2 separate regions of the Homo sapiens genome follow, and region 2 is linked to region 1. The links come from fine-mapping of genetic effects on plasma protein levels. A gene starts in region 1. The other region holds a variant in brackets. All regions are shown on one strand. Distances are from middle to middle. Region 1 holds the start of BCAM (basal cell adhesion molecule (Lutheran blood group)). Region 2 has its middle 12 kb from the start of NECTIN2.

Region 1 (10,792 bases):
CAGGAGTCCATACTCCAGCCCCTCCTCCCTCAGACCCAGGAGTCCATACTGCAGCCCCTCCTCCCTCAGACCCAGGAGTCCATACTGCAGCCCCTCCTTCCTCAGACCCAGTAGTCCATACTGCAGCCCCTCCTCCCTCAGACCCAGGAGTCCAGGCCCCAGCCCCTCCTCCCTCAGACCTAGGAGTCCAGGCCCCAGCCCCTCCTCCCTCAGACCCAGGAGTCCAGACCCCCAACCCCTTCTCCCTCAGACCCAGGAGTCCAGGCCCCAGCCCCTCCTCCCTCAGACCCAGGAGTCCAGACCCCCAACCCCTTCTCCCTCAGACCCAGGAGTCCAGGCCCCAGCCCCTCCTCCCTCAGACCCAGGAGTCCAGGTCCCCAGCCCCTCCACCCTCAGATCTTCAAATGGAATCTGGGGCCAGGCACGGTGGCGCACGCTTGTAATTCCAAGGCTTTGGGAGGCCAAGTGGGAAAGACTGAGCCTAGGAAGCTGAGGTTGCAGGGAGCTGTGATTGTGCCACAGCAATCCAGCCTGGGTGACAGACCGAGATCCTGTCTTAAAAAAAGAAAAAAAAAAAAAAGAAACTGGGCCCCCAGCCTTCTCTGTGATACCCAGGAGTCCTGCTCTCAGGATTTAGAAGTCCAGAATCCCAAGTTTTCTGAGAATCGGGCATCCAACCCTCCTGCTTCATCATGGCAAAAAAAATCCCTGGACCTAGACCCAGATATCCAGGTTAAGTCCCTGGTCAAAAGGACCACACATTTCCCTGATGGTTATCCACCTTGCCTTGCCACGGTCTGTGCTCATCCCTCTCTCTGTCCTTCATTCCTCTCTGACATCTTTCTCCCAGAGTAACTGCTAACTTCCAGTCTAAATCTTGCTGAGGAAGAAGAGATACCACCTCATGATTCATCTTGGAGTGGCCCAAGCCTCCCTCCACCTTGTTTAAATTGCCCCATTCCCGGAGACCTTGCCCTGTGCCCAGCGCTGGGCTGAGCAATGCTGACCAGGAAGCAGTGATCACTGCCCCACTAGGGCTCACCTTCCACTAGAGGAAAGAGACCTGTCCCTAGACAGTGATGACCCAGAGTGGGCATGGCTGGGGTAGGGAATCCCAGGGGGCTACAGGAACCCAGAGTGGGCACCTGACTCAGCCTGGGAGGTCAGGGAGTGCTTCCAGGAGGAGGCGATGTCTGAGCTGATACTTAAAAGATGATGAGGCCAGACGTGGTGGCTCATGCCTGTAATCCCAGCACTTTGGGAGACTGAGGCAGGCGGGATGCTTGAGCTCAGAAGTTTGAGAACAGCCTGAGCAACGTGATGAAACTCCATCTCCACAAAAAATTTTGGAAAAATTAGCCAGGCATGGTGGCACATGCCTGTAAGTCCTAGCTACTCAGGAGGCTGAGGTGGGAGGATGGCTTGAGCCTGGGAGGTCAAGGCTTCAGTGAGCCGAGATTGCACCACTGCACTCCAGCCTGGGCAACATGGCAAGACCCTGTCTCAAAAAAGAAAAGAAAATTTTTTAAATGATGAAAAAGTATTCCAATGGACAGGAGGCTTGAAAGAATGTATCAGGGCCGGGCGCAGTGGCTCACAGCTGTAATCCCAGCACTTTGGGAGGCCGAGGCAGGTGGATCATCTGAGGTCAGGAGTGAAACCCCGTCTATACTTTCACCCCAACATGGTGAAACCCCGTCTGTACTAAAAATACAAAAATTAGCCAGGCATGGTGGCGGGCACCTGTAATCCCAGCTACTCGGGAGACTGAGGCAAGAGAATCACTTCAACCCAGGAGATGGAGGTTGCAGTGAGCCGAGATTGTGCCATTGCACTCCAGCCTGGGCAACAAGAGCGAAACTCTGAAAAAAAAAAAAAAAAAAGGAAGGAAGGGAGGGAGAGAGAGGAAAAGGAAGGAGGGAAGGAAGGAAGGAGAGAAAGAAAAGAAAGGAAGGAAGAAAGAAAGAAAGAAAAGAAAGAAAGAGAATTTTCACAGATTTAGTTCCAAGCAACAGATGCTACCTCAGGGGCAGAAAGGGAATTTATTGAGAGGATTTGGGGTCACTCACAGAATCCCAGGAGTGAACTGGGGAATCAGGATTGGAAAGTGAGCAGGAAGAATCCTGGCAACTGGCCAGCAATGGTAACCCAGCCACAGTGACACCACGGAACCGGTCTGATGAGGCCATGCTGGCGATGGCCACTAGACACTGTAGTTGTCTCGCTGCCTCTGCTGCCCCAGAAATAGGATATGGCTGCTCTTCTCATTAGCTGTTGCTGGTAATAAATCACTTCACAACTTAGCCGCAAATGACAGCAATCATTGCATTAAGTCTCATGGTTGCTGTGGGCTGGGATTTGAAGAAAGGCGTGGCTGGTTTGTTTTGGCTCAGGATGCAAACAAACAGTGCAATCAGTGATGCTTGCCACAGGGCGGCTGGGGGTGCTGGACAAGTGGGCATCTCTCTGTGGTCTCAGGGCCTCCCCCACCATATAGTCTCTGCACTGGCCAGCTTGGGCTTCCCCACAGCATGGCTGCCTCAAGGTAGTCAAACTTTATATGGCCGCTGAAGACCCAGGCAGAAGCTGCATGGCCTTTTCTAGCTCATTTTGGGAGTTCCGCAACTTCACTTCAGCTGAATTCTGTTGGTTGTATGCAAGTCACCAAACTGCACAGATTTGAGAGGAGGGTGCCATAGACCCCAGCTCTTGATGGAAAGAGTATCAAGCTCTCATTGTGGAAACACACATGGGATGAAAGACACTGTCACAACATGGCAAAACCCCATTCCTACAAAAAAAAAAAAATTAACTAGGAGTGGTGGTGCACACCTGTACTCACAGCTACCCAGGAGGCTGAGGTGAGAGGATCACTTGAGCCCTGGAGGACGAGGCTGCAGTGAGCCATGATCATGCCATTGCACTCCAACCTGGGTGACAGAGCAAGACCCTGTCTCAAAAAGAAAAAAGAAAGAGATTGTTGTAGCCGTCTTTGGAAAACAGAATCTGTCCCAGCTGCCATGCATGGCTGGAAGAGGTGGCCAATTCCTGATATTCAAAAGTGTGGAAGGATTTGCCAAGCTTAAGTCACCTTAGCTCCAACAGATGCAGGAAAGCAAACATCCATTCTTGTTGGCTTCAAGAGTGGGCAACAGAGGCTTTCAGACAGTAGGAATTTCCTTAAATGTGGGAAGGAGCTGCAGATGCTAGGTAATCCTTCCCGCAAAATATGTACTATAGCCCGCTCCTTTGGTTTTTTTTGTTGTGTTTTGTTTTTTAGACAAGGTCTCACTCTTTCACCCAGGCTGGAGTGTAGTAGCACGATCTTGGCTCATTGCAGCCTTGATCTCCCCAGTTCAAGCGATCCTCCCACCTCAGCCTCCTGAGTAGCTGGGACTACGAGCACAAACCACCACCACCCCCGGTTAATATGTATTTTTTGTAGATACAGGGTTTTGCCATGTTGCCCAGGCTGGTCCCAAATTCCTGGGCTCAAGCGATCCACCTGCCTCAGCCTCCCAAAGTGCTGGGATTGTAGGTATGAGCCACCACAGCTGGCTTTGAATGTTCAATATCAATAGGCCCTTTGCAGAAGTTCTTATCGAAACTTTCCCCGCACAACCGTCTCTCATTGTACAATCAAAAAATGCATTCACACTGCCACCCAATACAAAAAATTTCAATAGTTCCATTTTCCAGATCTGAGACTGGAATCAGGGAAGAACCATTCCCCTCCAAATATGTCATTCTCCCCATATTCCACAAGCTGTGAGCTAGTTGTAAAGTTAATCGTCACACACTGTGTGAAAAATAATGGGAAAAAAGGTCAAGAAAAGATAAGTCAGCCAGGCACTGTGGCTTCCGCCTGTAATCCCAACATTTTGGGAGGCTGAGGCTGGTGGATCACCTGAGGTTAGGGGTTCGAAACCAGCCTGGCCAACATGGTGAAACCCTGTCTCTACTAAAAACACAAAATTAGCCGGGCATGGTGGCGCATGCCTGTAATCCCAGCTACTTGGGAGGCTGAGGCAGGAGAATTGCTTGAACCTGGGAGGCGGAGGTTGCAGTGAGCCAAGATCACGCCATTGCATTCCAGCCTGGGCAACAAGAGTGAAACTCTGTCTCAAAAACAATGAAAAGGTAAGTCTGGCCAACCGTGGTGGCCCACACCTATAATCCCAGCACTTTGGGAGGCTGAGGTAGGAGGATCGCTTGAGCCCAGAGTTTCAGAAAAGATAAGCCTTGTTAGTTAAAATATGTGAGGATATACACCTGCGGCCGCATGGATGGAATTAGAACTTTTTTTTTTTTTTTTTTTTTTTTTGATACTGAGTCTCGCTCTGTCACCCAGGCTGGGGTGCAATGGCATGATCTCAGCTCACTGCAACCTCCACCTCCTAGGTTCAAGCAATTCTCCTGCCTCAGCCTCCCGAGTAGCTGGGATTACAGGCACCTGCCACAACCCCTGGCTAATTTTTTTATTTTAAGTAGAGAGGGGGTTTCACCATTTTGGCCAGGCTGGTCTCAAACTCCTGACCTCGGGTGATCCACCCACCTCGGCCTCCCAAAGTGCTGGGATTGCAGGCATGGGCCACCATGACTGGCCATTTTTATATTTTTTTGTAGAGACGGGGTTTCGCTATGTTGCCCAGGCTGGTCTCAAACTCCCGGGCTCAAGCAGTCCTCCCGCCTCAGGCTCCTAAATTGCTGGGATTACAGACGTGAGTCCCTGCGGCTGACCTGGACCTCAGCTTTTACCCTAAGTGAGACAGAAGTCATGGGAGGACCCTGGGGCAGAAGAGTGACATGAGTTGATTCACATGTAAAAGGAATCCTTCAGGCTGTTTTGTGAGAATAAATTACAGGGGACAAAGGCAGATGATGTTACAAGACTAGTTTCTGCAAGTCTGCAAGGGTCCACGGCTGCTGTTTTGGTGTTTCTGACTTTTCTCCTTCATACACATGCCATAGAGTTCTCCTCCCTCACCCAGAACCTCAGATGGCTAGGTTCTTCTTTTTTTTTTTTTTTTTTTTGAGACAGAATTTCACTCTTGTTGCCCAGGCAACATCGTGCAGTGGCACGATCTCAGCTCAGTGCAACCTCCACCTCCCAGATTCAAGCGATTCTCCTGCCTTAGCCTCCTGAGTAGCTGAGATTACAGGCATGTGCCACCACGCCCAGCTAATTTTGTATTTTTAGTAGAGATGCGGTTTCACCATGTTGGTCAGGCTGGTCTCGAACTCCTGACCTCAGGTGATCCACCCACCTCGGCCTCCTAAAGTGCTGGGATTACAGGCATGAGCCACAGCGCCCAGCCTCAGCTGGCTGGGTTCTTGAGGGAGGTGGAAGTGGGCGATGGCTGCTGAGAGGGCATGTACCAGGGTCCAGCCCAAACAGAAGGTGCACAGGCTGGGGACAGAAGAGCTAGGGTATGGGTGTCGGTGCTCACAGTGTGTGAGCTTGACAGCACCTGGGACTGTCTTGGAGTGCCGCCGCATTCCCCATGAGTGAGTTTGTATTGTATATCCTGGGATGCTCCAGTCTGGATGGAATCTGCACGTGAGTTTGTGTGCCTTGCAAACAAACCTTCCCTGAGCACCTGCACTGTGTCTGGTCTTGTGCTGGGCGGGGTGCCCAGGGGAGGAGCCCTTAGCTCACCACAGTGATCAAGACATCCCTGGCCCTGCCCTCACAGGCTCACAGTCCACTGAGGGAGACAGACCTATCCCCAGCCAGGGACCCCCAGAGTGTGCCGGGCTCAGGTGGGGGAGCCCAGAGGGGGAACCTGACCCAGCCAGGGAAGGCAGAGGGGACTTCCTGGAGGAGGGGATGGTACAGTTAATCCTAAAAGGTCTTTCCCAATGTAACAGTTGCTCTGTAGGATGGATGCAGTGGCTCATGCCTGTAATCCCAGCACTTTGGAAGGCAGGAGGATCACTTGAGCCCAAGAGTTGGAGACCAGCCTGGGCAACATAGTAATACCCTGTTTCTATTACCAAAAAAATACAAAAATTAGCTGGACATGGTAACACAAGCCTATAGTCCCAGCTACTTGGGAGGCTGAAGTGGAAGGATTGCTTGAGCCCAGGCGGTTGAGGTTTGAATGAGCTATGATTGCGCCCACTGCATTCCCGGCTGGGCAACAGAGCGAGACCCTGTCAAAAACAAAACAAACAAACAAAAAAAACGTTGGTCTCCTGTATGACCAATGGATAAAGTAACCTTGACCAGTCTAATAACTCCCAGGCTGACCTGTAATCCAAGCCTTCTCTGTATGTCTGAGCAGGCAAAGCCCAGCTCCAGGGCTACCTCAACCCCCAGGCTGATCAGAAGCTTGGGTAACCTCTCCCAGTGTGGCCAGCGACCCCCCACCCTCCCACGTTCTGACCACTGTCCTGGGCAACTAGTGACATCTAGTGGGGGATTTTGTCCCAGTCTGACCTGGCCTGTAGGGGCCTTGGGCAGTCGGACCTGTGACCCACGCTTCCTAGCAGTGGCTGGACTCCTCCCCCTTCCCGCAGGTGCCCTGGCCTCTTCCCCTGCCCTCCTCACCTGCTCTGGCCAGTCTGACTCCTCCCTTCCCCACAAGGTTGGGAGGGAATGAAGGAGAGAGCGGGAAGGAGGAAGGGAGGGTGGCATTCCTGGGATTCCCTGGATAGGGGGAAGAGTGGGAGGGCCTTCCATGGGTGAGCAAGCAGAGAGGGCACCCCGTACCCCACCCCCAGCCCCATCATCGAAGCGGCCTAGGAGGACCTGGATTTGAAGACCATTGAAAATAAGAGATTAAACCGGTTGATTCCAGGCTACTGGTCAGACGAGGAAAGCAGCCCAGAGCACTGACCACAGGGGAAAACATCTCCGGGCATACTGGGAGCAGCTGCTGGGGGCCACTGGTCAGGCTGCGGGGGTCACTGGTTGGACTGGGAGAGGCCAGTGCAGGCCACTCGGACGGCACGCTTGGGGCCATTAGTTACACTGGGAGAGGCCATCGCAGGCCACAGGTTGCAGTGGGGTCCTCTGGTTAAAATCGACGATGCCAGCCCAGGCTGCTGGTCACAGTGGGGACGAGTCCCCAAGGCCCCTGGTCAGAATAACGAGGAGAAGGTCCGCGATTGCCTGGTGAGATCCCAGCTCGGGTCACTGGCTACGCTGGTCGATCAGGCCCCCCGCTGCAGGCGCTGGTCAGTAAGCCCGGACAGCTCTAGGCTTGGGGGCGGACGAGCCCCGAGCCTGGCCCCGTGCACTGGGAGGTCCGCTCCGGGCAGTGGGAGGTCCTGGCCCCGCGCCCGGGCATCGGGGGACGAGGGGGGCCTGGAGGGCGGGGCGGGGCGGGGCTGCCGGGGGCGGGGCCTCTGGCTCCCAGCCCCGCAGCGGCCGAGCTGCAGCCCGGGCTCAGTCTCCGCCGCCGCCGTGAACATGGAGCCCCCGGACGCACCGGCCCAGGCGCGCGGGGCCCCGCGGCTGCTGTTGCTCGCAGTCCTGCTGGCGGCGCACCCAGGTATGGCTCGGGCTGAGGGCAAGGTGGGACTGGGGAGAGGCCCCTGGGGACCCCGGGAAAGCGAGGAGAAAGGGCTTTACCCTGACCCCAGGAAGCAAAATGTGGGGACCCCAAGGAGGAGGGATATGGGAGTGTTGGAAGGTACGCCTTCCAGTGAGAGAGATCTGGGGACAGCCAGGCAGGAGAGCTGGGGATACCCAGGCGGTGGATCAGAGACAACCAGAGAAGTCAGCCCCCTTCCCACTCAGCACCCTGGAATCTGGGTCCCACCTGCCTCCTCCCTCAGACCCTGGAATCTGGGCCCCCAGCCCCTCTTTCCTCAGACCCAGGAGTCCAGGCCTCCAGTGGCTAGAATAGCTTCCCCCAGGGCACAGAGGATCAAAACCCCAGGGCTCTCTCCCTCAAAGGTCCTCAAGTTTTGAGAGGTCCAGGGACCCCTTAGAGAAGCGAGGACCATGTGTCCCCACACCAGCGATCCACATGTATTTAGGAGTTTCCAGAGTCCAGTATAAAGAACCCGCCTCCCTCAGGAAAGGGCTGGAGCACCAGCCCCGGGCAGTGACAGTGGAACAAAGTGTTTCCAAGTGACAGGCCCCCTTCCTGGGGCCTCAGCTACATTTACACACCTGCATGAGGATAGAAGGAGAGGAGGCCGGGGGCTGGGGGGTGGGGGTGGGGGTGCTGGGGACAGAGGGACAGAGAGATGAGAGAGATTGGGGAAGAGAGAGGAACTCTCTGCCTCCACTTGTCTGCAGATCAGACCCAGCCTTAGGCACCAGCCTGGACCCCGTCACCCCTCCCTGGGGACAGGCTGGGGCCAGAGGTGAGCGCTTGGGAATCCAGGCCCCTGGCACACTCATGGTCAACAGTGGGTCCCCAGGGGTAGGGCTGGGCCAGATTGAGCAGAGAAGGGAAGGGAGTTTCTAAGAAGCACTGAGAGCTGATGCCAGGATGCCAGCCCAGAGGGTGAGGGAGGGTGGTGGTTTTTCTACAATAACTACTCCACCAGGCCCCAGCCTCCTCTTCCCTCTGATCCCAGGAGTCCAGGTGCCCAGCTTCCCAAGATCCTGGGCCTCAACCTTATCCTTTTGCAAGATGACTCGACTTATCCCGTTTGCTGTTGTATCAAACTGAGGGGGGCCAAGAGGCGGCTGGGGGCTCTGGCTCCAGGCCGGGCAGGTCTCAGCCAGCCTGTCCCTCCCACATTCCTGAAACCTGCCCAGCCCTGTCCCCCCTCACCGCCCCCACACATCCATCCCGCCTAAGCTCCGGGCCCAGCCGCAGCCCACACCCCAGCCCCTCACTCATGGGAGAGCGGAAGAGACCCAGGGACTGAGTGGTGCAGGTGCAGAGAGAGGCAGAGACAGGGACAGAGATGGAGACCCAAGAGGAGAGACACACGCAAAGGTGGAGACCAGGATGGAGAGAAACATTTATCCATCATCACAGAGGTGGCCCTGCCCAGGGTGCTGGAGGCAAATGGCTGAGCCAGGCCTGGCCCTGCCCTGGGGGGTGGCGTGTGCTCTGTTGGGATAAGCAAAGGCTGGTGCAGTATTACCCCAGGAGTGTTCAGCGGAGGCCACAGGGCCCTGTGCAGCCCAGAGGAGGAGCCCTGAGCTCTGCAAGTGCAGGGAGAGATGGATTTGAGACCCAGAGATGCAGGGAGAAGGGATGGAGGGCGAAAGGATCTCAGGGAGGAGGGGCTGGGGCCTAGACTCCTGGGTCTGAGGGAGGAGGGGCTGGGGCCTGGACTCCTGGGTCTGAGGGAGGAGGGGCTGGGGCCTAGACTCCTGGGTCTGAGGGAGGAGGGGCTGGGGCCTAGACTCCTGAGTCTGAGGGAGGAGGGGACAGGGGCCCAGATTCCTGGGTCTGAGGGAGGAGGGGCTGGCACCTGGACTCCTGGGTCTGAGGGAGGAGGGGCTGGGACCTGGACGCTTGTGTCCTGGGGGAGAGGGGACCCTGTCTGGAGGGCTCTTCCTGTTGGTGTGGTGGATGATAGCTCAGTTGCTCTCTTGCAGATGCCCAGGCGGAGGTGCGCTTGTCTGTACCCCCGCTGGTGGAGGTGATGCGAGGAAAGTCTGTCATTCTGGACTGCACCCCTACGGGAACCCACGACCATTATATGCTGGAATGGTTCCTTGTGAGTGCTTGGGGCTGGGGGGCCTGGAGTCAGGGCACAGCAGGGCAGCAAAGGTTCATTCTCTCATCAGTGCCTAAGGCCTGTAGAGATCCACCAAGCCACACTCCTTGTTACAGATGGGGTCACTGAGTCCCACTGAGGGGAAGGGATCTGCAAGGTGCCCCGTGTCTAGGCACAGCCAAGTCTAGAATGACATTGACCTGCTCTGGACTGCGGGCTCTTGAGAGAGAGAACAGAGACAGACATCAAGAAAGCAGAAGCCAGGCACGGTGGCTCACGCCTGTAATCCCAGCACTTTGGGAGGCCGAGGCGGGTGGATCACGAGGTCAAGAGATCAAGACTGTCCTGACCAACATGGTGAAACCCCGTCTCTACTAAAAATACAAAAATTAGCTGGGCGTGATGGCATGTGCCTGTAATCCCAGCTACTCAGGAGGCTGAGGCAGGAGAATCGCTTGAACCTGGGAGGTAGAGGTTGCAGTGAGCCGAGATCGAGCCAATGCTCTCCAGCCAGGCGACAGAGCAAGACTCTATCTCAAAAAAAAAGAGGAAAGAAAATGAGAGACAATCGGGAGAGGGAGAGACCAAGAGGAGAAGGGATGGGACCGGAATGAGATGGAGAAAAGGAGACAGGAAAAATCAAGAACTGATAGGGAATGGGGGCAGGAGAAGGTGGGGAGGGACAGAGGGACCAGGGAGACCCATAACAAGAGGAAAAGAGGCAGAGCCAGGAGCTGCAGAGAGAAAGGACCCAGAGAGAGAGAGACTGAGGAGCGCTGGGACACCCGGAGCTGAGAGCCTGCCCCGCGCCCACAGACCGACCGCTCGGGAGCTCGCCCCCGCCTAGCCTCGGCTGAGATGCAGGGCTCTGAGCTCCAGGTCACAATGCACGACACCCGGGGCCGCAGTCCCCCATACCAGCTGGACTCCCAGGGGCGCCTGGTGCTGGCTGAGGCCCAGGTGGGCGACGAGCGAGACTACGTGTGCGTGGTGAGGGCAGGGGCGGCAGGCACTGCTGAGGCCACTGCGCGGCTCAACGTGTTTGGTAAGTGTCCTCGGGCATCCCCCGAAGGGAGGCAGGCAGGGAGGGGCGCAGGGCAGGGGCTCCTGACGTGAACGTCTTTTTCACAGCAAAGCCAGAGGCCACTGAGGT
Region 2 (15,936 bases), 27 kb after region 1:
AAACTGGAAGGAGAGCCGGGCATGATGGCTTACACCTGTAAACCCAGTGCTTTGAGAGGCTAAGGCAGGAGGATTGCTTGAGGCCAGGATTTTGAGACCAGCCTGGACAACATAATGAGACCCTGTCTCTAAAAAAGAAATAGAGAGAAGGAAGAGAGGCAGGGAGGGAGGGAGGAAGGACTGGGAGGAAGTATAGAGCTGGAAACTGTGTCAAGGATAACTAAGTCCAGATTTTGGCATGAGAAAGTTAAACATATTCAGAATGGATGCTAAGACAATATAGAATTATACAAATTCACCACAATGGCATATTAATTTGTTTTCATTTGAATTTCCGTGACCTCTAGTGTGAAAATGGTGTTTCTCTGTATGTTCATTGGCCATTTGCTTTTCTTGTTTATGAACTGTGGTATACTCTTGCCTACTTTTCTCTTTTTTTTTTTACCTTTTCTTATTAATTTGCAGGATCTCTCTACACACCAGGAATATTAACCTCTAATCTTATAAAGCTTTTATCTCAGGCTGGGTGCCGTGACTCACGCCTGTAATCCTACCACTTTGGGAGGACGAGGTGGGTGAATCACTTGAGTCCAGGAGTTCAAGACCAGCCTGGCCAACATAGCGAAACCCTGTCTCTACTAAAAATACAAAAAAATAGCCAGGCAGGGGGTAGCCAGGCATGCCTGTAATCCCAGCACTTTGAGAGACCAAAGCAGACGGATCGCTTGAGCCCAGGAGTTCAAGACCAGCCTGACCAACATAGTGAAACCCTGTCTCTACTAAAAATACAAAAAATTAGCCGGGCATGGTGGCGCATGCCTGTGATCCCAGCTACTCAGGAGGCTGAGGCAGCAGGGTTGATTGAGCCTGGGAGTTCGAGGCTGCAGTGAGTCTTGATTGCACCACTGCACTCCAGTCTGTGTGACAGAGTGAGACCCTGTCTTTACATAGATATAGACAGATGATGATAGATAGATGATAGATAGATAGATAGATAGATAGATAGATAGATAGATAGATGATAGATAGATAGATAGACAGATAGATGATAGATAGACAGACAGATATCCACATAGATACCTCAAACCTATTATGTCCCAAATCGACCTCCAGTCTTTCCTCTCGCATAAATGGTATCCCTGCCCTCCAGCTGGGTGAGCCCAAAACTTAGAATTTATCCTGGATTCCTCCATTTCCTTTACCTCCCACTCACATAACCCAAAGGCACATCCCATGGGTCCCCTCCCATACAGCTCTCTTTCCTGACCACTTATCCCCCGGCTTCCCATATTCAATAAACCTTTTAACTCTATACCCTGCCACAGGGCATAGAGCTGCAGCTAGCTCTTTCTACAAATGGTTTCACGGCCATCAGTCCAAACATACATCTTCTTTCACCTGGATCAATGCACTTATAAAAGCAAATGCTCAACAGCAATCTTTGATGGCTCTAATACTCACATCAATTAAAAATTTAAACGTTACCTTTCAGTCACCCTTCCCATCCTTTTAAAGTGGAATTCCTAAATCTAAAATGGTAAAAGTTAAAAAAAAAATAAAACACCAAGCTCATATGGCTCTATAAAATACAGAATAACTTTAAAATGTATCTTATAGGCGGGGCTGGGCATGGTAGCTCACGCCTGTAATCCCAGCACTTTGGGAGGCTGAGGCGGGCGGATCACAAGATCAGGAGATTGAGACCATCCTGGCTAACACGGTGAAACTCCGTCTCTACTAAAAATACAAAAAATTAGCCGGGCGTGGTGGCGGGCGCCTGTAGTCCCAGATACTCGGGAGGCTGAGGCAGGAGAATGGCGTGAACCCAGGAGGCGGAGCTTGCAGTGAGCTGAGATCATGCCACTGCACTCCAGCCTGGGCGACAGAGCGAGACTCCATCTCACAAAAAAAAAAAGAAATTATCTTATAGGCAATACTTTCACTTGTCAATTCTCTTTATTTATTTATTTATTTTTTGAGACGGAGTCTCGCTCTGTCGCCAGGCTGGAGTGCAGTGGCGAGATCTCGGCTCACTGCAACCTCCACCTCCCGGGTTCAAGCGATTCTCCTGCCTCAGCCTCCTGAGTTACTGGGACTACAGGCACATGCCATCACGCCCAGCTAATTTTTTTATTTTTAGTAGAGACGGGGTTCCACCATGTTGGCCGGAATTGTCTCAAACTCCCGAGCTCAGGTGATTGGCCCACCTCGGCCACCCAAAGTGCCGGGATTACAGGTGTGAGCCACTGCGCCCGGCCAATTTTTTTTTTTTTTTTTTTTTTTTTTTTTTTTTTTTTTGAGATGGAGTCTTGCTCTGTCGCCCAGGCCGGAGTGCAGTGGCGCAATCTTGGCTCACTGCAACCTCCACCTCCCGGGTTCAAGCGATTCTCCTGCCTCAGCCTCCAGAGTAGCTAGATTACTGGCGCATGCCACCATGCCCAGTTAATTTTAGTAGAGACAGAGTTTCACCGTGTTAGCCAGGATGATCTTGATGTCCTGACCTCATGATCTGCCCACCTCAGCCTCCCAAAGTGCTGGGATTACAGGCGTGAGCCACCATGCCGGGCCAATTTTTTTTTTTAAGATGTAGTCTTGTTCTGTTGCCCAGGCTGACCCATTGCTCTCATGTATGTTTGTTTGTTTGTTTGTTTTTGAGACAGGACCTGGCTCTGTCGCCGAGGCTAGAGTACAATGGTGCAATCATGACTTACTGCAGCCTCGACCTTGGGCTCAAGTGATCCTCCCACCTCAGATTCCCCAGTAGCTGGGACTACAGGTGCATTGCCCTCAGGCCCAGCTAATTTTTGTATTTTTTGTAGAGATGGGATTTCACTAAGTTGGCAAGGCTGGTCTCAAACTCCTGACCTCAGGTGATCTGCCCGCCTCAGCCTCCCAAAGTGCTGGGATTATGGACATGAGCCACCATGCCCTGCCTATAACTGCTTTTAAACATAATTTTATACTTTTCCAGGAGCGTCCTAATGCATACGTGTACTGCGTATTCTCGAAATTTATGCTTTTTTAAAACATAAACCAGGCCTGGCACGGTGGCTCATGCCTGTAATCCCAGCACTTTGGGAGGCCGAGGCAGGTGGATGATCTGAGGTCAGGAGTTTGAGACCAGCCTGGCTAACATGGTGAAACCCCGTTTCTACTAAAAATACAAAAAATTACCCAGGTGTGGTGGTGCGCACCTATAATCCCAGCTACTTGGGAGGCTGAGGCAGGAGAATCGCTTGAACCCAGGGGGCAGAAGTTGCGGTGAGCAGAGATCGCACCATTGTACTCTGGCTTGGGCAACAAGAGTGAAACTCCGTCTCAAAAATAAATAAATAAATAAATAAATAAATAAATAGCAGATTAGAAACCCGTCTGTGACTCAGGTTTTCTCATTTCTCTTAGAATAAAATTCAAACTCCTACAAAAGGCTGCGTGCATAGTGCCTCTCTCTCTGCCATCCCTAGCTTCACTTTCCTTGCCTGCATCCTATCAGACAGTCTGTCTCTCCAGCCCTTGAATATTTTGTTTCTTTCCTACCTCTTTTTTTCTTTTTTTGAGACAGGGTCTCGCTCTGTCACCCAGGCTGGAGTGCAGTGGTGTGATCATAGCTCACTGCAGCCTCAAACCCTGGGGCTCAAGCAGGTCCTCCCACCTCGGCCTCCTCAGTAGCTGCAACTACAGGCATGCACCACCACAGCTGGCTAATTAAAAAAAAAAAAAAAAACTTTTACAGATGGGGTTTCTCTGTGTTGACTAGTCTGGTCTTGAACTCCTGGCTTCAAGAGATCCTCCTGCCTCAGCCTCCCAAAGCTCTGGGATTACAGGCATGACCCATCACACCTGACCAGGACTCTCAAACTTACCCTTCATTTGTCCTGAAATCTTTCACTACAGATCCTCACGTAATTCATTCATTCTCATACTGCAGATTTTGGCTCAAAATAGCACCTAGCCAGAAATGTCTTTCAGACTCTCTTATTTTAAGGAGCTCTTGCCCCAAACCCACCCAAGTTACTTCCATCATCCTAAGTATTAATACTTTTGCTTGATTTTGTTCTTTTCTAGTTTCTGGGTTCTATGCATAGACCATTTTTACTAATATTCATATTTTCTTTTAAATACCTTAGAAAGATATTTTAGATTTCTTCATTTGAGCCATGCACATTCTTTGAAAATTTATCCTAAAATAGCTGGGCACCCAGCCCATCCCTTGAACCCAGGAGGTGGAAGTGGTAGTGAGCTGCGATTGTGTCGCTGAACTCCAGCCTGGGACACCGAGTGAGACTCCATCTCAAAAACAAACAAACAAACAAAAAAATGTTGGGCACAGTAGTTCATGCCTAGTCCCAGCTACTCAGGAGGCTGAGGCACGAGGATCACTTGAGGCCAGGAGTTTGAGATCAGCCTGGGCAACACAGCAAGACCTCACTCTAAAAAAAAATGTTAATGCTAACATATAACTTTGGTTCTGTTTGTGATTGGCATATGGTTTATATTATACTTTTTTTTTTTATTTGAGATGGAGTCTCACCCTGTCGCCCAGGCTGGAGTGCAGTGGTGTGATCTTGGCTCACTGCAACCTCCATCTACCATGTTCAAGCGATTCTCCTGCCTCAGCCTCCAGAGTAGCTGGGATTACAGGCATACACCACCACACCCAGCTAATTTTTGTATTTTTTTTAGTAGAGACAGGGTTTCACCATGTTGATCAGGCTGGTCTCAAACTCCTGACCTCGTGATCCGCCCGCCTTGGCCTCCCAAAGTCCTAGGATTACAGGAGTGAGCCACCGCGCCCAGCAAAAAGTTTTTTAACTAGCTGAGTATAGTGGCACGAGCCTGTAGTGCCAGCTACTCAGGAGGCTGTGGCGGGAAGAGGGAGGCTGCAGTGAGATATGATCGCACCACTGTACTCCAACCTAGGTGACAGCAAGAACTTGTCTCAAAAAAAACAAATAACTTCGGCCGGGCAAGGTGGCTCACACCTGTAATCCCAGCACTTTGGGAGGCAGAGTCGGGTGGATCCCCTGAGACCAGCAGTTCAAGACCAGCCTGACCAACACTGTGAAACCCCGTCTCTACTAAAAATACAAACAATTAGCCAGGCGTGGTGGCCGGTGCCTGTAACCTCAGTTACTCGGGAGACTGTGACAGAAAGATGAAGGCTGCAGAGAGCTGTGATCGCACCCCTGTACTCCAACCTAGATGACAGCAAGAACCTGTCTCAAAAAAATAGACAAATACATAAAATAAAATCGGAGTGAAGCTACCAATGTAATGTTGAGTGAGTGATATGTTTCAGAAAATACTTTCTAGATCCTTGATGTTTAATACGGTATCCCTAGTCATATGTGGCTATAGAAACGTAAACTACTTAAAACTAAATAAAATGTAGAATCTCATTCTTCAGTGACAATAGCCACAGTTCTACTGCTCAACAGACAATTGTGGCTTGTGGTTACTATATTGGACAGCACAGATATAAAACATTTCCATCAATATAGAAATTTCTTTTTTATTCTTTTTTTTTTTTTTTTTTTTTTTGAGACGGAGTCTTGCTCTGTCACCCAGGCTGGAGTGCAGTGGGGCGATCTCGGCTCACTGCAAGCTTCACCTCCCAGGTTCACGCCATTCTTCTGCCTCAGCCTCCCGAGTAGCTAGGACTACAGGCGCCCGCACCACGCCCAGCTAATTTTTTGTATTTTTAGTAGAGACGGGGTTTCACCATGTTAGCCAGGATGGTCTCGATCTCCTGACCTCGTGATCCGCCCGCCTCAGCCTCCCAAAGTGCTGGGATTAGAGGTGTGAGCCACCGCGCCCGGCCCCCAGTACAGAAATTTCTACAGGGTAATGCAGATCTAGAATATGATCCCATTTTAAAATAAAGTCCATGGCCAGGCATGTTGGCTGATGCCTGTAATCCCAGCACTTTGGGAGGCCAATGCAGGTGGATCACCTGAGGTTAGGAGTTCGAGACAAGCCTGGCCAACATGGTGAAACCCCGTCTCTACTAAATCTACAAAAGTTAGCTTGGCATGGTGTCGGGCACCTGTAGTCCCAGCTACTCAGGAGGCTGAGGTGGGAGAATCACTTGAACCCAGGAGGCAGAGGTTGCAGTGAGCTGAGATCGCACCATTGCACTCCAGCCTGGGCAACAAGAGCAAAACTCTGTCTCAATAAATAAATAAATAAAATAAAATAAAGTACGTATGTCACATGTGCGTTTACATGTGTATATATAAATATATTTAACAGGTTTTTAATCTGTTATGTGAATTTTTTAAATTTTTTCATACAGTGTCACTTTATTAAGTGGGTAGAAAATGTTAAATTTTTCTTTGAAACAAGGTTTCTTTTTTGGGGGGATGGGGGGATGGAGTCTCGCTCTGTCGCCCAGGCTGGAGTGCAGCGGTACGATCTCAGCTCACTGCAACCTCTGCCTCTTGGGTTCAAGTGATTCTCCTGCCTCAGCCTCCCAAGTAGCTAGGACTACAGGCGCCCGCCACCACGCCCAGCTAACTTTTGTATTTTTAGTAGAGACGGGGTTTCACCATGTTCACCAGGCTGGTCTTGAACTCCTGACCTCAGGTTATCCTCCTGCCTCAATCTGCCAAAGTGCTGAGATTATAGGCGTGAGCCACCACACCTGAGACACGGTTTCTTAAAACAAAAGAAAAAAAGAGAC[A/G]GGGTTTCACTCTGTCACCCAGGCTGGAGTAAAGTAGCATAATCACGGTTCACTGTAGCCTCAACATCCCAGGGCTCAGGTGATCCTCCCATCTCAGCCTCCTGAGTAGCTGGGATTACAGGAGCATGCCACCACACCTGGCTAATTTTTGTACTTTTTGTAGAGATAGGGTTTCACCATGTTGCCCAGGCTGGTCTTGAACTCCTGGGCTCAGGCAATGCGACTGCCTCGGCCTCCTCCCAAAGTGCTAGGATTACAGGCATGAGTCACCACACCTGGCATAAATTATTAAATATTTAAAATTGCCAAGTTCCTTGGAGAAACTCTATTTGACTACATTGTTTATTTTTTTTAATATGCTGCTTCATAACATCTATTTATTTAAAAATTTCTTAACATATGATGCAGCAACTCCCCTTCTGGGTATATATCAGAAAGAATTGGGTCGGGCGTGGTGGCTCACGCCTGTAATCCAAGCACTTTGGGAGGCTAAGGCAGGAGGATCACCTGAGGTCAGGAGTTCGAGACCAGCCTTGCCAACATGGTGAAACCCCATCTCTACTAAAAATACAAAAATTAGCCAGGTGTAGTGGCACACGCCTGTAATCCCAGCTACTAGAGAGGCTGAGGCAGTAGAATCACTTGAACCCAGGAGGCGGCGGTTGCAGTGAGCCAAGATCACGCCATTGCACTCCAGCCTGGGGGATAGAGCCAGACTCTGTCTCAAAAAGAAGAAAGAAAAGGAAGGAGGGAGGGAGGGGGGGAAGGAAAGGAGGAAGGGAGAGAGGGAGGGAGGAGGAAGGAAAGGAGGAAGGCAGGAAGGGAGGAAGGGAGGGAGGAAGGAGGAAGAAAAGGAGGAAGGGAAGGAAGGGAATTAGAGGCGTGAGCCACAGCGCCCAGCTTACATTATACTTTCTAACCTACTAATGGCATCAAATAAATAGGAACCGGTATTTGAGAAGCACATATTATAATTGGAGGCTGCAGTGGCTCATGCCTGTAATCCCGGCACTTTGGGAGACAGAGGTGGGCAGATCGCCTGAGCCCAGGAGTTCAAGACCAGCCAGGGCAATGTGGCAAAACCCCATCTCTACAAAAAATCCAAAAGAATTAGCCAGGTGTGGTGGTATGAGCCTGTAGTCCCAGCTACTCCGGAGGGTGAGATGGGAGGATCACCTAGTCACAGGAAGGTGGAGACTGCAGTGAGCCGTGATCTGGCCAGTGCACTCCAGCCTGAGCCACAGAGGGAAGGACGGAAGGGAAGGAAAAGGGAACAGTGACAAACAGAGACCAGAAACACAGAGGGATGCTGAAGCATAAGGAACGAAAGACCCAGAGATACAGAAATTTAGGAACACGAAGAGACCCAAAGATAGTGACAGAAACAGAGAGACAGAGGAAAGTCTAGAAAGAAACAATGCAGTGACACCCAGCACCTTCATGTATTTATTTATTTACTTATTTATTTATTCATTCATTCATTTATTTATTTTTTGAGTTGGAGTCTTGCTCTGTTGCCCAGGCTGGAGTGCAATGGCACGATCTCAGCTCACTGCAACCTCCACCTCCTGGATTCTCCTGTCTCAGCCTCCTGAGTAGCTGGGATTACAGGTGTGCACCACCATGCTTGGCTAATTTTTGTATTTTTAGTAGAGACAAGGTTTCACCATGTTGGCCAGGCTGGTGTCAAACTCCCGACCCCAGGTGATCTGCCCACCTCGGCCTCCCAAAGTGCTGGGATCACAGGCATGAGCCACCTCGCCCAGCCTTATTTATTTATTTAGAGACAAGGTCTCGCTCTGTCATCCAGGCTGTAGTGCAGTGGTGCAATCACTGCTCACTGCAACCTTAACCTCCCAGGGCTAAGTAGTCCTTCTGCCTCAGCCTCCCGAGTAGCTGGGACCACAGGCATGTGCCACCACGCCAGGCTAATTTTTTATTTTTGTAGAGATGGGATCTCACTATGTTTCCCAGGCTGGTCTTGAATTCCTGAGCTCAAGCCATCCTTCTGCCTTGGCCTCCCAAAGTGTTAGGATTACAGGCATGAGACACCACGCCCGACCTCCCACATCTCTCTTTTTTTTTTTTTTTTTTTTTGAGACGGAGTCTCACTCTGTCGCCCAGGCTGGAGTGCAGTGGGGCGATCTCGGCTCACTGCAAGCTCTGCCTCCCGGGTTCACGCTATTCTCCTGCCTCAGCCTCCCAAGTAGCTGGGACTACAGGCACCCGTCACCACGCCTGGCTAATTTTTTATATTTTTAGTAGAGACGGAGTTTCACCGTGTCAGCCAGGATGGTCTCGATCTCCTCACCTTGTGATCCACCCGCCTCGGCCTCCCAAAGTGCTGGGATTACAGGTGTAAGCCACCGCGCCCGGCCTCCCACATCTCTTTAATTTTATATATTTATATGTACATATATACACGCATATATATTTATATATGTATAAATAAATACATACATATATATGTGTATATACACGCGCACACACACACACATATATATAGAAGCTTTTACTTTAAAGCTTTGATTATTGCTAAGTTTATTTTCATTGTCTCAAGATCTGTTTAACCCTGGAGCCAGACTGGGTCAGTGGGTCTGTGTGGTGCCTCATGTACCTGTCTCTGCCCCTTGAAGTTCTGTTTACCACCTCCAAGAGGCATAGCCTGCAGTCTCAGCAAAAGGATAGATTCCCAGGAAGAGTGCGAGAGAGGTTTGGGGCCCAGGTGGGCAGCCCACCCAGCTGACCCCACCAGGTGGGCATGATATCATGATATCAAATATGCTAAATTTGTGTCTGTGTACATCATGTTCTGGCCCCAGGGAAATGAGCACTTTGCTGGTGAGGTTGGTGACATTTTGTTTACCATCTATGCCTGAGGAGGAAAGACTGGAGGAAAGAAAGACCTAAGAGGCCAGTTTATATTCACAAACATGGAAGTCAAGCCTGTTCCACCTTTCCAATGCAATAGAGCACCTACTGGGAAAGCCATGCCTGGCCAGCCCCTGGCAAAACACACCTGAGGATTCATTCCTCCATTCACGCAATCATACCTTCAAGAAAAGTTCAGAGGGCGTGGTGGCTCGCGCCTGTAATCCCAACAGTTTGGGAAGCCAAGGCTGGCTGATCACCTGAGGTCAAGAGTTCGAGACCAGCCTGGCTAACATGGTGAAACCCCATCTCTACTAAAAATACAAAAATTAGCCTGGCATTGTGGTGCATGCCTGTAGTCACAGCTACTCGGGAGGCTGAGGCAGGAGAATCACTTGAAACTTGGAGGCGGAGGTTGCAGTGAGCTGAGATCGAGTCACTACACTCCAGCCTGGGTAACAGAGCGAGACTCCGTCTCAAAAAAATAAAAAGTGTATTGAGTGTTTACTGTGTGCCAGGCACTGGGGAGACATCAATGAACAAACTTCACAACCCACCAGGCACAGTGGCTCACGCCTGTAATCCCAGCACTTTGGGAGCTCAAGGCGGGAAAATCACTTGAGGTCAGGAATTCAAGACCAGCCTGGGCAACACAGCAAGATCCCATCTCTACAAAAAAATTTTTAAATTAGCCAAACATGGTGGCACACACCTGCAGTCCCCACTACTCAGAGTGGGAGGATCGCTCAAGTCCAGAAAGTCAAAGCTGCAGCGAGCTATGATGGCATTACTGTACTCCAGGCTGGGAGACAGAGCAAGATCCTGTCTCCAAGACATAATAATAATAATAATAATTCACATCCTAATGGTGTTGCTGGACTCCAGTGGGGAAAGTGGTCAGTGGAATTCCTTAGAAGGTCCACAGACCTAGGAAGAGACTTCAGGAACTGCAACCAATCCCTGACTCTCTAGGGCCTGAGGAGGCACTTGGATGGGAACACCCTCCACCTCCCAAGAGAAGCAGTTGACTCCTCCACGAGGAAGCACTGGACAGCCAGGAGGTGCCTCTTGTTAACCAAAGTGGGCTGTTGACCTTGAACTCCAGCTCAGAGATCTTGTCCCTGGTCTTGTTCTCAAGACTCATCAGGTTCTCTCTTTCTCTGGACATGGAATCTAGATCTTCAATTTTGAAGCCAAATCTATGGGAGTAAAACAAAGAGATTTGATTAAAACAAAAGATGTTGTGCAAAACTCAAAAAATAAAACAGGCTGGGCGCTGTGGCTCAGGCCTGTAATCCCAGCACTTTGGAAGGCCAAGGCAGGAGGATCACTTGAGCCCAGGAGTTCGAGACCAGCCCTGGCAACAAACAGAGACTCTGTCTCTACAAAAAATGCAAAAATTAGCCTGATGTGGCGGTACACGCCTGTAGTCCCAGCTACTCGGGAGGCTGAGGTAGGGGGATCCCTTGAGCCTGGGAGGCTGAGGCTGCAGTGAGCCGTGATCCAGCCACTGCATTCCAGCCAGGGCAACAGAGCGAGATCCTGTCTCAAAAAATAAAATAACAGTAGTCCCAGCACTTTGGGAGGTCGAGGCAAGCAGATCACTTGAGGTCAGGAGTTCTCAACCAGCCTGGCCAACATGGTGAAACCCCATCTCTACTAAAAATACAAAAATTAGCCAGGGGTAGGGGGGCACACCTGTAATGCTAGCTACTGGGGATGCTGAGGCATGAGAATCACTTGAACCCGGGAGGCGGAGTTTGCAGTGAGCCAAGATCACGCCACTGCACTCCAGCCTGGGCAACAGGGCGAGACTCCGTCTCAAAACAACAACAAAAATAAACATGAGAAGCTAGATGACTGTAGCTGGCTGATCACCTGCTTGGCAGCCACAGCTTTTACCTGTGTCTTGGGCTTGGGACTCATGGAGCAGAGTGGGTGTCGCCCACAGGACGCATGAATGCTTGGAGCTTACTGGATCCCTGCATCCCTCCCATCTGTGTTCAGCTCACATTCTTAGTATGTCTAACAGGTCTCATGAGTTGCTTTTTTTTTTTTTTTGAGACGGAGTCTTGCTCAGTTGCCCAGGCTGGAGTGCAGTGGCGCGATCTCAGCTCACTGCAACCTCCGCCTCCCGGGTTCAACTGATTCTCCTGCCTCAGCCTTCCGAGTAGCTGGGATTACCGGCGGGTGCCACCACGCCTGGCTAATTTTTTGTATTTTTAGTAGAGACAAGATTTCACCGTGTTCGCCAGGATGGTCTCGATCTCCTGACCTCATGATCCGCCTGCCTCAGCCTCCCAAAGTGCTGGGATTACAGGTGTGAGCCACCACGCCCGGCTTGAGTTGCTTCTTAATATCCATCCTTCATTTCACCTGTCTGTGTCCTTATTTATAGGGCTCTTGTTCCCTATATAACAGAATTGAAAATTCCCTTTAAAAAAATACAGCAAATGCACACAGAGGATCAGAGGATGGAGGGGAGAATTTGATGAGATAACCAGGGAAGTATTTAGTACAAAGCCTGGCACAGAGTCCATGTGCAGTACATGTTAATTATTGTGATTATCTAAGGAAAAATAAAGAGACACAGAGAAAAGCAAAAAGGTTGCCTTAGGCCAGGTGCGGTGGCTCACACCTGTAATCCCAGCACTTTGGGAGGCCGAGGCAGGCAGATCACCTGAAGTCATGAGTTCGAGACCAGCCTGGCCAACATGGTGAAACCTTGTCTCTACAAAAAAAAAAAGACAAAAATTAGCTGGGCATGGTGGCACGCGCCTGTAATCCCAGCTACTCAGGAGGCTGAGACACAAGGATCACTTGAACCCAGGAGGCGGAGGTGGCAGCGAGCCGAGATCACACCACTGCACTCCAGCCTGGGTGACAGGGCGACACTCTGTCTCAAAAAAAAAAAAATAAAGGCCAGGTGCGGTGGCTCACGCCTGTAATCCCAGAACTTTGGGAGGCCGAGGCAGGCAGATCACCTGAGGTGAGGGGTTCGAGACCAGCCTGGCAAACATGATTTAGTAGAAACCCCGTCTCTACTAAAAATACAAAAATTAGCTGGGCGTGGTGGCAGGCACCTGTAATCCCAGCTACTCGGGAGGCTCAGGCAGGAGAATCGCTTGAACCCGGGAGGCGGAGGTTGCAGTGAGCCGAGATCACACCATTGTACGCTAGCCTGGGGGGACAAGAGCGAGACTTCGTCTCAAAAATAAATAAATAAATAAACAAATAGGCTGGGCGCAGTGGCTCACGCCTGTAATCCCAACACTTTGGGAGGCCAGGCGGGCGGATCACGAGGTCAGGAGATCGAGACCATCCTGGCTAACACGGTGAAACCCTGTCTCTACTAAAAATACAAAATATTAGCCAGCATGGTGGCAGACGCCTGTAGTCCCAGCTACTCGGGAGGCTGAGGCAGGAGAATGGCGTGAACCCGGGAGGCGGAGCTTGCAGTGAGCCGAGATCGCGCCACTGCACTCTAGCCTGGGCAACAGAGCGAGACTCCATCTCAAAAGTAAAATAAAATATAATAAAATAAAATAAATAAAATACAAACACTCCCTTAGTCCAGGGCAGGGACCAGATACAGAGATACCACTCTAAAGGCAGACATTGGTGTTGGGGTTTGGTGAGTTGGATGGCGAGTGAACAGATGGCTAGTGGGAAGGGAAAGAGAAGAGGAAAGGGTTCTCCATCCAGTACCTGGTCCCCAAGTTAATGAGTGGAGGATCCCAGCCTGCCCCACCAGGAGGGAATACATTTGCATAAGGTCCCTCATCTGCATGGCATCCCAGGGAATTTGCATAGAGATGGCAGCCTGGGGCCACATCAGTATGACCCCTCCTCCCAAGGGTTGAAACTCCAGCCTACATTACAAAGGCCTAGGGCAATAGGAAAGTGGGAGGGGTGAACCTCAGGATCTGGGGCTCCAGGAAGTAAAGAGAAGTTGGTAGTAAACTACCCTTGCTCTTTAACCTTCTGTGGTTCCCAGAGCATGAGCCGCCCTTCAGCTGGCATTCTGGACCTTCTAAGATACTGACCCTCACATCCCCTGCTCCCGCTGTCACCACCCTCCTACCTGGAATGCCCTTCCCCATATCCCGTGCTGTGACAAAGCTTGCCTATTCTTCAAAGCCTGGACATCCTGAAGAATTCTGAAAGCTTTCACCACCAGCCCCTCCTTGCCCTGCCCTTGGAAATTTACAAAGCTCTGTGCATCTCCCAGACATGTACAGATTTTTTGGGGTATATAGTTTATTAGTAAGGTTATATTTGATTGCAAATGACTATATATATATATATATATATATATATATATATATATATATATACACACACACACACACACACACACACACACACACATAGTCTCATACATATATATATATATATAGTCTATACATATATATATAGTCTCATATATATATATATGTATACCAGGAGTCATGTCTCATGCTTGTAATCCCAGCAGTTTGGGAGGCCAAGGCAGGAAAATTGCTTGAGCCTAGGAGTTCAAGACCAGCCTGAGCAACCTAGTGAGAGCCTGTCTCTACAAAAAAGTCAAAAGATGAGTCTGGCAGGCCGAGCACGGTGGCTCACGACTGTAATCCCAGCACTTTGGGAGGCAGAGGAGGGCAGACCACTTTAGGTCAGGAGTTCAAGACCAGCCTGGTAATATTGTGAAACCCCGTCTCTAATAAAACTGCGAACATAGCCAGGCGTCGTGGCCCAAACCTGTAGTCCCAGCTACTTGGGAGGCTGAGGCAGGAGAATCACTTGAACCCAGGGGGCAGAGGTTGCAGTGAGCCAAAATCACACCACTGCATTCCAGCCTGGGCAACAGACTGACACTCCGTATCAGAAAAAAAAAAAAAAAAAAAAAGATTGGCCGGGTGCGGTGGCTCACGCCTGTAATCCCAGCACTTTGGGAGTCCGAGGCGGGCAGATCACAAGGTCAGGAGATTGAGACCATCCTGGCTAACAAGGTGAAACCCCATCTCTACTAAAAATACAAGAAATTAGCTGGGCATGGTGGCGGGCGCCTGTAGTCCCAGCTACTCGGGAGGCTGAGGCAGGAGAACGGCGTGAACCCAGGAGGCAGAGCTTGCAGTGAGCCAAGATCGCTCCACTGCACTCCAGCCTGGGCAACAGAGCAAGACTCCGTTTCAAAAAAAAAAAAAAAGATTATTCTGGCACAGTGGCGAATGCCTATAGTCCCAGCCACTTGGGAGGCTGAAGTGGGAGGATTGCTTGAGCCTGAGAGGTGGAAGCTTCAATGAGCCATGATTGTACCACTGCACTCCAGTCTGGCCAACAGAGCATGACCCTGTCTCAGAATAAGAGCCGGGTATGGTGGCTCACGTTTGTGATTCCAGCACTCTGGGAGGCCGAGGCAGGCAAATTGCTTGAGCCCAAGAGTTCAAGACCAGCCTCGGCAACAACCCAAAAACCCATCTCTACAAAAAAATAGAAAAATTAGCCAAGCATAGTGGCACATGCCTGTAGTCCCAGCTACTCGGGAAGTTGACATGGAAGGATCCCGAGCCAGGGAGGTCATGGCTGCAGTGAGCCATGGTAATGTCACCACACTCCAGCCTGAGCGACAGAGTGAGACCCTGTCTTAATTAAAAAAAAAAAAAAAAGACTGAGGGGAGGAAGTGGTTAGGGGAGCTGCTGCTGCTGCTAAAAGAAAGGAAAGGTTGCCAGGCAGGTAAAATACTTGGCATCAGCTCCATAGCTCCGTCAGGAAGCCTTTGCCCCTACCTATGCCCCTACCTTCTAGTGGTTATGGCTCTTCAGTGAAGTGCCACCTCTGGGACTCCTTGACACTAAAAGTCAACTCCCCAGGCGGGCGTGGAACCCACCCAGTCATTTGTCACCAAACTTGGTGCTCAGCCTCATGCTTGTGACCCAAGGGTGTGAAACTCCAGCCTACACCTCTGGGGCATTTTTTTCTTTCTTTTTTTTTTTTTCCTTTTTTTTTTGGCAGAGCCTTGCTGTCACCCAGGCTGGAGTGCAGTGGCACAATCTTGGCTCACTGCAACCTCCACCTCCCGGGTTCAAGCGATTCTCCGGCTTCAGTCTCCCAAGTAGCTGGGATTATAGGCACCCGCCACCACATCCTGCTAATTTTTGTATTTTCAGTAGAGACAGGGTTTCACCACGTAGGCCAAGCTGGTCTCAAACTCCTGACCTCAGGTGATCCATCTGTCTCGGCCTCCCAAAGTACTGGGATTACAGGCTTGAGCCACCATGGCCAGCCTCCTGGGGCTTTCTTCCTGGGCTCATCCCTGCTCACAAAGAACAGCCAGGAGAGAGCTAAGCCCACTCATTCGTAGGCCAGGAGAAAGGAGGTGCTAGAGGCCTTCCTAGAAGAA

The links. PIP is the posterior inclusion probability: the model's chance that the variant is causal. Sun 2018 read protein levels with aptamers (SomaScan).
Region 2: its variant is fine-mapped to the plasma level of the BCAM protein (Sun 2018, PIP 0.95).

The regions. Positions count from the first base shown.
Region 1 is chr19:44,801,708-44,812,499 of GRCh38, forward strand. It overlaps BCAM (basal cell adhesion molecule (Lutheran blood group)), which reads left to right and starts at 7,396. Exons shown (of 15, transcript NM_005581.5): 1 at 7,396-7,499; 2 at 9,518-9,639; 3 at 10,456-10,684; 4 at 10,771-10,792. The coding sequence starts at 7,418. RefSeq lists an enhancer at 10,570-10,792.
Region 2 is chr19:44,826,057-44,841,992 of GRCh38, forward strand. No RefSeq gene overlaps it. Among named protein-coding and RNA genes, the nearest start is that of NECTIN2, 12 kb to the right of the region's middle. The variant A/G (reference allele first, on the strand shown) is at 6,683.